Regions from separate parts of the Homo sapiens genome. Here region 2 is linked to region 1. Evidence: fine-mapped expression QTL. A gene starts in region 1. The other region holds a variant in brackets. All regions are shown on one strand. Distances are between the middles of the regions.

Region 1 (5,374 bases):
CCCGGTCCTTCCCACAACACATGGCAATTATGGGAGCTACAATTCAAGGTAAGATTTGGATGGGGACGTAGCCAAACCATATCAGAGGGCTTAAGTGACTTACCCTGGGTCACACAGCTAACAAATAGTAGAGATAGAATTCACACTCAGACACACTGCCCTGCCTGCTCTCCAAGGCTAGATCCACGAAATTTGTTTTGTCTGGTACCACGTGGACTTGACACTATAGGAAGGTTTTAATGGTAGAAGAAAAATGTCTGTAGAAGAGGAGGGAAAAGGAAGAAAAGGCTCTATGATCTGGAACTATTCAAATAAAAAAGATGGTGGAGCAATTGACCACAAGGCGCTAGAATGATGTGGCTGCTGAGGAAAGAAGGAAGGAAAGGGAAGAAAGCGAAAAAGTGAGACTGCATTATTCAAAGTCTAGTGCCCCGGCTGGGCATGGTGGCTCAAGCCTGTAATCCCAGCACTTTGGGAGGCCATGGCAGGTGGATCACATGAGGTCAGGAGTTCAAGACCAGCCTGGCCAACATGGTGAAACCCCGTCTCTACTAAAAATACGAAAAAATTCGCTGGTTGCGGTGGTGGATGCCTGTAATCCCAGCTCCTAGGGAGGCTGAGGCAGGAGAATCACTTGAACCTGGGAGGCAGAGGTTGCAGTGAGCTGAGATTGTGCCACTACACTCCAGCCTGGGTGACAGAGTAAGACCTTATCAAAAAAAAAAAAAAAAAAAAAAAACTCTATTGCCCCTGTAATTGTAGCTCATATTTATTGAGTACCTACATGTTGTCAGGGCTTTACATATATTAACTCATTTAATTCTCATAACCCTACATGGTAGGTACTATTATCCCTATTTTGTAGATGAGAGGAAACTCAGGCACAAAGACATATAAATTTCCCAAAGCGCACCAACTCTAAATGGCAGTGCTGGGCTATACAGACTTTACAGCACAGTGCCTCAAACTCTGCATTGCTCAAGGGGGCTTAATATGACCTGACATACTTCTGGGTTTTATCAGAGGGACTTCAAGAAATGTGAGCACTTCTACAGGGAGGTGGACTCAAGATAGTGATAAGATGAATAATATTTCTTGCGTACTGTCTATATGCAAAGCACTGTTTCACATGCTTTGTATATAGTAACTGCTTTAATCTTCACAACTATAGGAGATAGGTGCCATTATTATGCCCATTTTACAGATGAAGAGACTGAGGCAAGTCACAGAAAGAAAAAAGCCCAGTGAAATTCTTGTGTTTCTCCAGTAGAACAGCAGCGTTGAAGGAGCAACTTCCCTCCCACTTGACCTCTGAAGGGCTGCCCTAGGGGAAGAGAGAGGGACATGATGGCAGAGGTACCCATTGCTGGGGATACTTCTTGCTGGGGATTAGGGTCAGGATGCCCGCTCTGGGTCAGGGTTAGACTCAGTGACCCCTAAGGACCTTCTAGCTGTGAGACTCTGCCCACTGCTCTGGACAGAGGAGGAACTAGGGAAAGAAGTGAGACTAGGAAGAATCTTGATGCCAACTGTTTCCCCAGTGTCCAGTGAGCAAACTCCTGACTCCTAAAAGAGGAAGGAATAGACCATTCACTTTCTTTCATCTGCCTAGAACATGGGATCTTTTTTTAAAAAAATAGTTGGGTACATAGTAGGTGTATATATTTATGGGGTACATGAGGTGTTTTGATACAGGCATGTAATGTGAAATAAGCACATCATGGAGAATGGGGTATCCATCCCTTCAGGCACTAATCCTTTGAGTTACAAACAATCCAATTATACTTTTTAAGCTATTTAAAAATATACAATTAAGTTATTATGGACTATAGTCACCCTATTGTGCTGTCAAACAATAGGTCTTATTCATTCTTTCTAGCTATTTTTTTGTACCCATTAACCATCCCTATCCTCCCACTACCCTTCCCTGCTTCTGGTAACCACATGCTTCTACTATGTCCATGAGTTCAACTGTTTTGATTTTTAGATCTCACAAATAAGTAAGAACATGTGACGTTTGCTTCCTGTGCCTGGCTTATTTCATTTAATATAATGATTTCCAGTTCCATCCATGTTGTTGCAAATGACTGGATCTCATTCTTTTTTATGGCTGAATAGTACTCCATTTACATATATGTACCATATTTTCTTTATCCGTTCATCTGTTGATGGACACTTAGGTTGCTTCCAAATCTTAGCTATTGTAAACAGTGCTGCAAGAAAAACACAGGAGTGCAGATAGAACCTGGGATCTTTATTCATGTGGCGAAAATTTATGGTGGTGCCTGCTGGGTGCCTGACAGGGGCTGGAGATGAGTATTCTCCAATTCAGCTCAAGGAACCATTTGTTGAGCATCTACTATGGGCTGGGCTGAAACTTTGGTATCACATTTACTCCCCTCAAAATCATTTTACAAATGCAGAAACACACTCAGGCACAGGTATTATTATAAGAAACTTTTCCAAGGGTACCACCCGGTGAATGCCTGAACTGGTTAATTTCAAAGCCGTGGTCACCTAGCAGAACTTGTCCCCATTCTCCTGGGAGAGCCGGGAGCTGGTGGGGCTCCCCCCTGCCTCCCTCCCGAAGCCCTCCTGTTTTCACAGCTACCTCTCATCCCCTTCTCAGGAAGGCCCAGAGTGCTGGACCCCAGGCTAGGGTGGGCAAGGATGAGGAGTGGGGACAGAGGCTGGCATATGAGGCACGGGAGAGAGGTGGGGAATTACGGGACGCCGCTGCCAGGGCTGCAGTGGGAGGAGGGGTGTGTCCCCTACTTCGGAGGGGCGCTCGGGCTCTGTGGAGAGAGCGCCATGCGGGAGGCGGGCCCGGGGCGCCCTCGCTCGGCGGGCACAGGTGCGCGGGTGCCATGACGACTGCGCCTCACGAGCCCCCTCCTTCCCCTGGTCGGGAGGCGAGGGGCGGCGGGCGGCTGAGCCCTGCGGGCAGCAGCGCTGCGCGGGAGCCAGTCAGCCCGAGGGGAGGGAAACCGGCCAGGGCCCGGGGCCTGGGAGCGCACGCCCCCTGCTCACCTCTGCCCGGACCGACCGGACCTGCGGAGCGCGGAGGCAGGGGCGCAGCCCGCAACCAAGTGCCCGGAGACCGTCCCTCTGCCCGCTGGCCCGAAGGGGCCCGCTGCCTCCCGCCATCGGAGACCGCCGGAGCCCGCAACTGGGGGCATCATGGAGGGTGAGTGGTCCTGGGGCTGGGGGCCAGCCGTGGGGCAGGGTACCGACTCCGGGGCATGGGGCGAAGGGAGAGGAGAGGGCCGGGCAGCTGATCACCCATGGCTGTCCAGAGCCAGACGTTGTGACACTCTGTGTGTGACAGAGACAGAGACACTGAGTGAGGGAGAGAGACCTGGGGTGCCCATGTGTTCATGGTGTGTGTGTGTGTGCGTGTGTATGTGAGACAGAAAAACAGACAGACAGAAAGAGACAGATGGAGAGAAAGACCTGGGGGTGCTCTGTATTCATGTTGTGCCTGTGTGTGTGAAAGAGAGAGAGAGAGAGAGACAGAGACAGAGACATAGAGACAGACACTGAGAGAGGGAGACAGAGACAGGCAGAGAAACACTTGGGGGTGCCTCTGTATTCATGTTGTGCTTGTGTGTGTGTGTGAGAGAGAGAGAGAGAGTGAGAGAGAGAGAGAAAGACCTGGGGTGCCTCTGTATTTGTGTTGTACATATGTGTGTGCATGTACAAGACACACACACACACACACACAAAAAGAGAGAGTCCCTGTTGTGTGTGTGCACGCACACAATCCCTGCTGTCTGAGCAGAGAATCATTTGAGACCAGGTGAGGACAGCTTGGCTATTAGCTTCAGAAGAATTGTCACCGACTTTGTCTGCTTGAAGGGGTGGGGTTGTTGGGGAGATGGGATTCTAGAGGTGATATCCTCCATGTAGAGAGAATTTCTCTCCCTAAGGAAAGGAGAGTGAACTATGGACCTTACCTTCAGGATTTTAAGGGATAGCGGACCAAGGCATAAGGCTGCTTGCTCCCACTTTACCAGAACCCTCTCTCAGCCATTGTGGACAAGGGGAACCATATTTAGGCTAAGAAACTGGAAAACCAAGGGCTCGTCCACTGTCTTGCTGGGTGTCTTTGAGATAGTGCCTAAACCTTTCTGTGCCACTGGTCACCCATCTATCGAATGGGGGAACTTAACATTCAGCTGGCTTCAGAGAGTGTCTGTGAGGATAAAATAAGATATGTTGTACAACACGCCAGTATGAGGCAGCTGTGGCAAGAGGTAATAAAACCCCAAAATTCCAATTAGTAATTGCAAACACTGCTGTTAAAAAATAAAATCAAGTTTTATAGAAAATCTTGTGAGGCTGCACTTGTAGTTTTCCAATGAGCCAGGGTATGAAAAGCACACACACAAAAGAGGCAAGAAGGAATCAATAACCCAAGAGGAATCTGGAAGATTGGCAGATCTGTAAGAATGGCGTTAGCAAAGCCCTGAAGCTCCAGTGAACAGAAGTCGGGGGAAATTGGCAAAGACAAGAGCAAAAAGCTTTCAAAGTCTAAGAATAACAAGAAGGAATCTGCTCTGGCTTAGGCTCGAGGGCAGGCAGAGCAAGATACAGGCAATTTTACTTCAAATTGTGGAATAAAGAGGATAAGGAGGAAATAGAGACCCAAGATAGTCAAGCGATAGGAAGAAGACATCAAGTTACCTACAATGAGCTCACTCATTGAAGCCCAGACATATGACATCCCAGCGACCCAGAGGTATTTACAGATATAATCATTGCTTTTGAGGAAACTACAGAGAATGAAGGAAGTGCCAGAAAACTGAAGATGGGCAAATGTCCTGATTTTCAAAAAAGGGAAATATAAATTTTTTATCTAAAAAGCCTCTACACTGCTAAGATTAGTTTTGACCTCTATTAAAATTCCAGAAGAAATGACCAAACACAGTGTACACTTAGGAGACAACAACGCACTCCCTCAGCTCAGAATTTTTTCAAATTCTGAGCTGCACACTTGCAAAGATGTGTGCCTGAGCATGTTCATCACAGTGCAAAATTGGAAACCATCCAGATAGCCATAAATTATGTAAATTAAATAAAAAATGAGACACTTCTGCAATGGCATACTATGCAGACATTAAAAACTGTGCTTAGGATTTTCTTTATTGACATGGAAATATGTTCACTACCCACTGTGAGTAATTAGAAAAAAAAACAGGTTTTTGAATGCATGTGTAGTGTGATCCCCTTTATGCAAAATTACATAGGTTTATTATTGGAAATATACATATACAAGTGTATACGCAAAGAGGTAGTCACTAACATCTTTGTTTGATTCTCCTGCTTCTGAAAGCAGACCCTAAGACAAGAGCTTGGATATAGGGAGTCTATT
Region 2 (5,313 bases), 29 kb after region 1:
TAAGCCAGATTTATGTTTCTCTCCACCCAAACATCTCAGTGGAGTAAAGAATAACAAGGCAGCACTGCTGCAAACATGTCTCACCTCCCACCATAGGGTGGTTTTTCTCTCATCTCAGAACTGAACAAATGTACAATAGGGTTTTATACTGAGACATTCAGTTCCCAGGGGCAGGCAGGAGACAGTGGCCTTCCTCTATCTCAACTGCAAGAGGCTTTCCTCTTTTACTAATCCACCTCAGCACAGACCCTTTACAGGTGTTGGGCTGGGGGACGGTCAGGTCTTTCTCATCCCATGAGGCCATATTTCAGACTATCATATGGGGAGAAACTTTGGACAATACCCTGCTTTCAAGGGCAGAGGTCCCCGCGGCTTTCCGCAGTGCATTGTGCCCCTAGTTTATTGACACTAGAGAATGGCGATGACTTTTACCAAGTATACTGTTTGTAAACATTTTGTTAACAAGGCATGTCCTGCACAGCCCTAGATCCCTTAAACCTTGATTTCATACAACACATGTTTTTGTGAGCTCCAGGTTGGGTCAAAATGGCTGGGGCAAAGTGGCTGGGGCAAAGCTACAAATTAACAACATCTCAGCAAAGCAATTGTTTAAAGTACAAGTCTTTTTCAAAATGGAGTCTCTTATGTCTTCCCTTTCTACACAGACACAATAACAGTCTGATTTCTCTTTCTTTTCCCTACACTCCTGGACTCAAGTGATTATCCTGCCTCAGCCTCCTGTGTAGCTGGAAGAATAGGCAAGCATCCCCTCATCTGGTTAATTTTTTTGGTAGAGATGGGGTTTCACCATGTTTCCCAGGCTGGTCTCCAACTCCTGGGTTCAAGTGATCCTCCTGCCTTGGCCTCCCAAAGTGCTGGGATTATAAGCATGAACCATGGCACCTGACCCCAGGAGCTTTAAAAACAAAAACAGCACATAACAAATAATGCTAAAACCACTTTCTAGACTAATTAGGTTGGAATCCTTGGCCTGAAAAAATAGGCACGGGTTTTGTCTTTGTTGTTGAAATGCTTCAGGAGAGTCTCATGCACATGGAGGGTTTACAGCTACTGGTTTATATGGCATATGAAGCAAGACAAATCTGGGTTCAAGACTGGTCCTTGCAACTTGCTATGTGAACTTGAGCCAACTGCTTAACACTCGAGTCCCAGTTTCCTTGTCTGTAAATCAACAGTGTAGTAACTATCTTAAAGGCCTCACCTTTAAAAAATAATAAAGGGTGTAATAACAGATGCTGAGTTGTCCTCATGAGGAAATAAATGGTGCAGACTTGTCCTTGCATTGTAGAGATACTGATACTATGGCCAAGATGACATAGGGACAGCCTGACATGTAGGCTCTACATCTGACCTCCTGAGGTTTTCTGGAGAATCCATAAACAGAAACTGTGTTATTTGACGCACCTAATCGTCCTTGTCGAGGACAGACTGCGCACTCTGATCGCTCTGCTAGCTGCCAGCTAATCAGTTGACCCCCAAAAGTACACAAATGGCCCCGCAAGGAGGCTCATATCTATAATCCCAGAAATTCGGGAGGCCGAGGCCGGAGGATAGCTTGAGCCCAAGACTTTGAGACTAGCCTGGGCAACACAGTGAGACCTCATCTCTCCAAAAATTGAAAGAAATTAGCCGGCGAGGTGGCAGCGCATTCCTGTGGTTCCAGCTACTCAGGAGGCTGAGGTGGGAGGAGAGGATCACTTGAGCCCGGGAGGTGGAGACTGCAGGGAGCCGTAATCGCGCCACTGCACTCCAGACTGGGCGACAGAAGGAGGCCCTGTCTCAGGAAAAAAAAAAAAAAAAGGAGAAAAGTGCAAAAGTGCACACAGGATTCATTGTTCCCACACGATCTGCGGTTTCCTCCTC[C/A]CTTCTCATAAATCCTGTAGCTGCCTTTGTTCTTTGACTACTCAGCCAATTCAGGTCTGAGCTGTTCTTCGACGCCGCCCTAGATGCGATGATGAAGGTCAGGTGCCCGCATCCCACCCACCGTCCCCTCGCAGGGGCCCTAGGACCCACCCAGATCCCGCCTGTCTCTCTCCCCGCGGCAGGTTCCGCTGCATCGTGCACCCTTTCCGCGAGAAGCTGACCCTGCGGAAGGCGCTCGTCACCATCGCCGTCATCTGGGCCCTGGCGCTGCTCATCATGTGTCCCTCGGCCGTCACGCTGACCGTCACCCGTGAGGAGCACCACTTCATGGTGGACGCCCGCAACCGCTCCTACCCGCTCTACTCCTGCTGGGAGGCCTGGCCCGAGAAGGGCATGCGCAGGGTCTACACCACTGTGCTCTTCTCGCACATCTACCTGGCGCCGCTGGCGCTCATCGTGGTCATGTACGCCCGCATCGCGCGCAAGCTCTGCCAGGCCCCGGGCCCGGCCCCCGGGGGCGAGGAGGCTGCGGACCCGCGAGCATCGCGGCGCAGAGCGCGCGTGGTGCACATGCTGGTCATGGTGGCGCTGTTCTTCACGCTGTCCTGGCTGCCGCTCTGGGCGCTGCTGCTGCTCATCGACTACGGGCAGCTCAGCGCGCCGCAGCTGCACCTGGTCACCGTCTACGCCTTCCCCTTCGCGCACTGGCTGGCCTTCTTCAACAGCAGCGCCAACCCCATCATCTACGGCTACTTCAACGAGAACTTCCGCCGCGGCTTCCAGGCCGCCTTCCGCGCCCGCCTCTGCCCGCGCCCGTCGGGGAGCCACAAGGAGGCCTACTCCGAGCGGCCCGGCGGGCTTCTGCACAGGCGGGTCTTCGTGGTGGTGCGGCCCAGCGACTCCGGGCTGCCCTCTGAGTCGGGCCCTAGCAGTGGGGCCCCCAGGCCCGGCCGCCTCCCGCTGCGGAATGGGCGGGTGGCTCACCACGGCTTGCCCAGGGAAGGGCCTGGCTGCTCCCACCTGCCCCTCACCATTCCAGCCTGGGATATCTGAGGGGGTCCAGGGAGGGCGGGACGCTGCCTCAGGGCCCCGATTGGACACGAGATACATGCAGGCGATAGCGGCCTGGTGTGGTTAGGTGAGGATGCGTGGTCCCTCCCTCTCCAGAGCCAGGCAGTGGTGGGCAGCTGCTGGTGATGTCTTCTCTGCTGCCTTCACCCTCAGTAGAGGCAAATGCGGGGGACGGGAAGGAACCAACTTGCCCTGTGTGGTGGGCTTGACAAACATCATCTCACTGAATTGTCACAACGCTTTGGAGATAGGTTGTCTTCTCTTCCTTCTACAGATGCAAAAACTGAGGCCTGGAGAGATGTGACTCACCCAAGTTTCTCAGGTGGAAATGGCATGTGAAGCTATCTGACTCCAATACCTGTGTGGTTTTTATCATCTCCAGCTGGCTCCAAGAGGGCCCGGTAAGGTAGAACACTGTGAACTGAGTAAGTCCTAATTAGGCAGCTAGGAAGAAGCGAAAAGCAAAGCCGGCCTGTCCCTTGATGCTTTGTGTCCATGTGAGGGAGTCCCTCATGTTCCGTTACTGAAGCCACTCCCCTTGATCCTTTTCTAGAAGAACACGGTGTGCCCCCGCTGCCGGCTCTAATGTGTTGGTTTGTCTTGTTTGTTCCAAGAAGTTCCAAGAAGCCATTGTCCTCAGAGGACGGCAGCTTCAGAACGAGCCTTGGGGAGGCTGCCTCAGTTGCAGGGCACTCTAGGTCTTGCCCTCTGGGTCTGAGCTTAGAGAACAGAGGAGGGACTCCCAGACCAAGGCAAGAACTTACAATGCCACAGACATTGTAATGCTGCAGGGCCACAGGAGGTGTCCTTTTACGTACTCATAGACAACGAGGAAGGGGAAGCACGGTATGCATTTTCCACATTGGGAAACACATCTGCTCACTGGGGCTGCAGGTACAAAGCCTTGCCCAAGGTCTCTCTCCTCCCTGCTTCCTGGGAGGGAGAAGTTGGTCAACTGAAGCTGCAGCCGGAGTGCCATTTGGAGACTCCTGAAGGACACACACTAAACTCTTCCCCAGCACAAATGACTTGTGTACTCTAAGGAGGTACCAGGAGAGCCCTGTTTACTCTGGCTTTCCCCCAACACCCCTGCATCAACTTGAAGAAATGTGGCTTCTTTCCAGGAGACGGGAGCACATGGGATTGCCTTGGAGGGTCCTTTCACAGGCCCCTTCATCTTGCACTTAAATGGACATTTCCCCCCACCTCTGTAGAAAACACGGTGTTGCTAGAAATTTAGTAAACAAAAAAGAAACGTTTCCAGGGGTCGGGGCTCTGAGGCTCTGTTCCCTTAACCGACACACAGTGACTGTTTACTGTTTGCTCCACTCTAAGTTCCAGGTTTAGGGGCAGAAGAAAATTCCTAAGCAGTTGTACAATACATTCTCCAAGCATGTCCCCAGACACCGTCTCATTTAATCCATAGTAATGAGGTTGAAGGAGATTGAATGTTATTGTCATTTCACAAAGTGACTGAAGCTCAAAGGGGCCAAGTTTCCAGGGCCACAGAGGGGCAGGATTTAGATTAAAATTTGTCTTCTGATTGTTCTTCCCACCCCACATGCTGCCTTTCAAGGAAGGTGGGGATGACGGGAGAGCTGGTAATTTCCCCAAAGGCTTTTTTGCCTAACAGTGAACCAGAATGCCCACTCCTGGTGCCCAAGCTCTTGGTCTGGGAAAGAAATCTATTGTGTTTACTCTCGTAATGTCCAGCCTGAGTTGTTCTTGCCCTGGTGCTGAGCAGGCTGCCAAGAGCCATCATGACCTTGTCCTGGTTCTGGGGGTGATGGATGAGGGTCTGAGAGAGAGTATGCCCTCCTGCCCCTCAGTGGTATTAGCTGGTGCCATGCATTTCTGGTACTGTATCAGTGTCATGTGTCATATGGGCCAGAGAGTTCCCAGCTGGTTCTGGGCTATTTGTTGTGAAGAAGTCTGACTCCAGGCTCTAAAAGTAAGCCAGAGAAAGGGCCGTCTCAAACCCAAAATGCCTATCCCTATGGCTGGGTGGGAATTGTCTGAAGACACCACCTGGTGTCTCCTCTGGGGTGTGTTTCTCCTTTAGCATAGCCTCCCCAAGTACAAGATCAGCATTTGAGGCTGGGGGCGGGTAGGGATACCAAAGTACTCACTCAAGCCAACCTTTCCATCACAGCCCCTTTGTCTTCCCCCAAAAGATGTCATGCTTTGAAAGGTTATAACTGCCCAAAAAACTCCTTCAGCTCTCGCTGAAGGTTACAATTAACATATTTTGCTGTTATTTTTGTTTCTTCTAAAAAATCAATCAGAGGCTATACCTGCCCATTCAGATCTGAGTGATAACAGGCATGACAATGCTTTAATGAAGCAGTGAGACATTGT

Which allele goes with the higher level. Positions count from the first base shown, and alleles are read on the strand shown. Sizes are in standard deviations (SD) of each study's normalised expression.
For the expression in tibial nerve of the gene that starts at base 2,853 in region 1, A is the low allele of the variant in region 2 and C is the other (small effect, 0.32 SD a copy in GTEx).

Evidence for each region. PIP is the estimated chance that this variant, and not a neighbour inherited with it, causes the effect. A credible set is the group of variants that fine-mapping cannot tell apart.
Region 2: its variant is the best candidate, but not a certain one, in a credible set for the expression of NPFFR1 in tibial nerve (GTEx, PIP 0.57).

What each region holds. Positions count from the first base shown.
Region 1 is chr10:70,281,483-70,286,856 of GRCh38, reverse strand. It overlaps NPFFR1 (neuropeptide FF receptor 1), which reads left to right and starts at 2,853. Exons shown (of 4, transcript NM_022146.5): 1 at 2,853-3,187. The coding sequence starts at 3,181. RefSeq lists an enhancer at 3,145-3,646.
Region 2 is chr10:70,252,581-70,257,893 of GRCh38, reverse strand. It overlaps NPFFR1 (neuropeptide FF receptor 1), which reads left to right. Exons shown (of 4, transcript NM_022146.5): 4 at 2,067-5,313. The coding sequence ends at 2,937. Among named protein-coding and RNA genes, the nearest start is that of PPA1, 22 kb to the right of the region's middle. The variant C/A (reference allele first, on the strand shown) is at 1,885.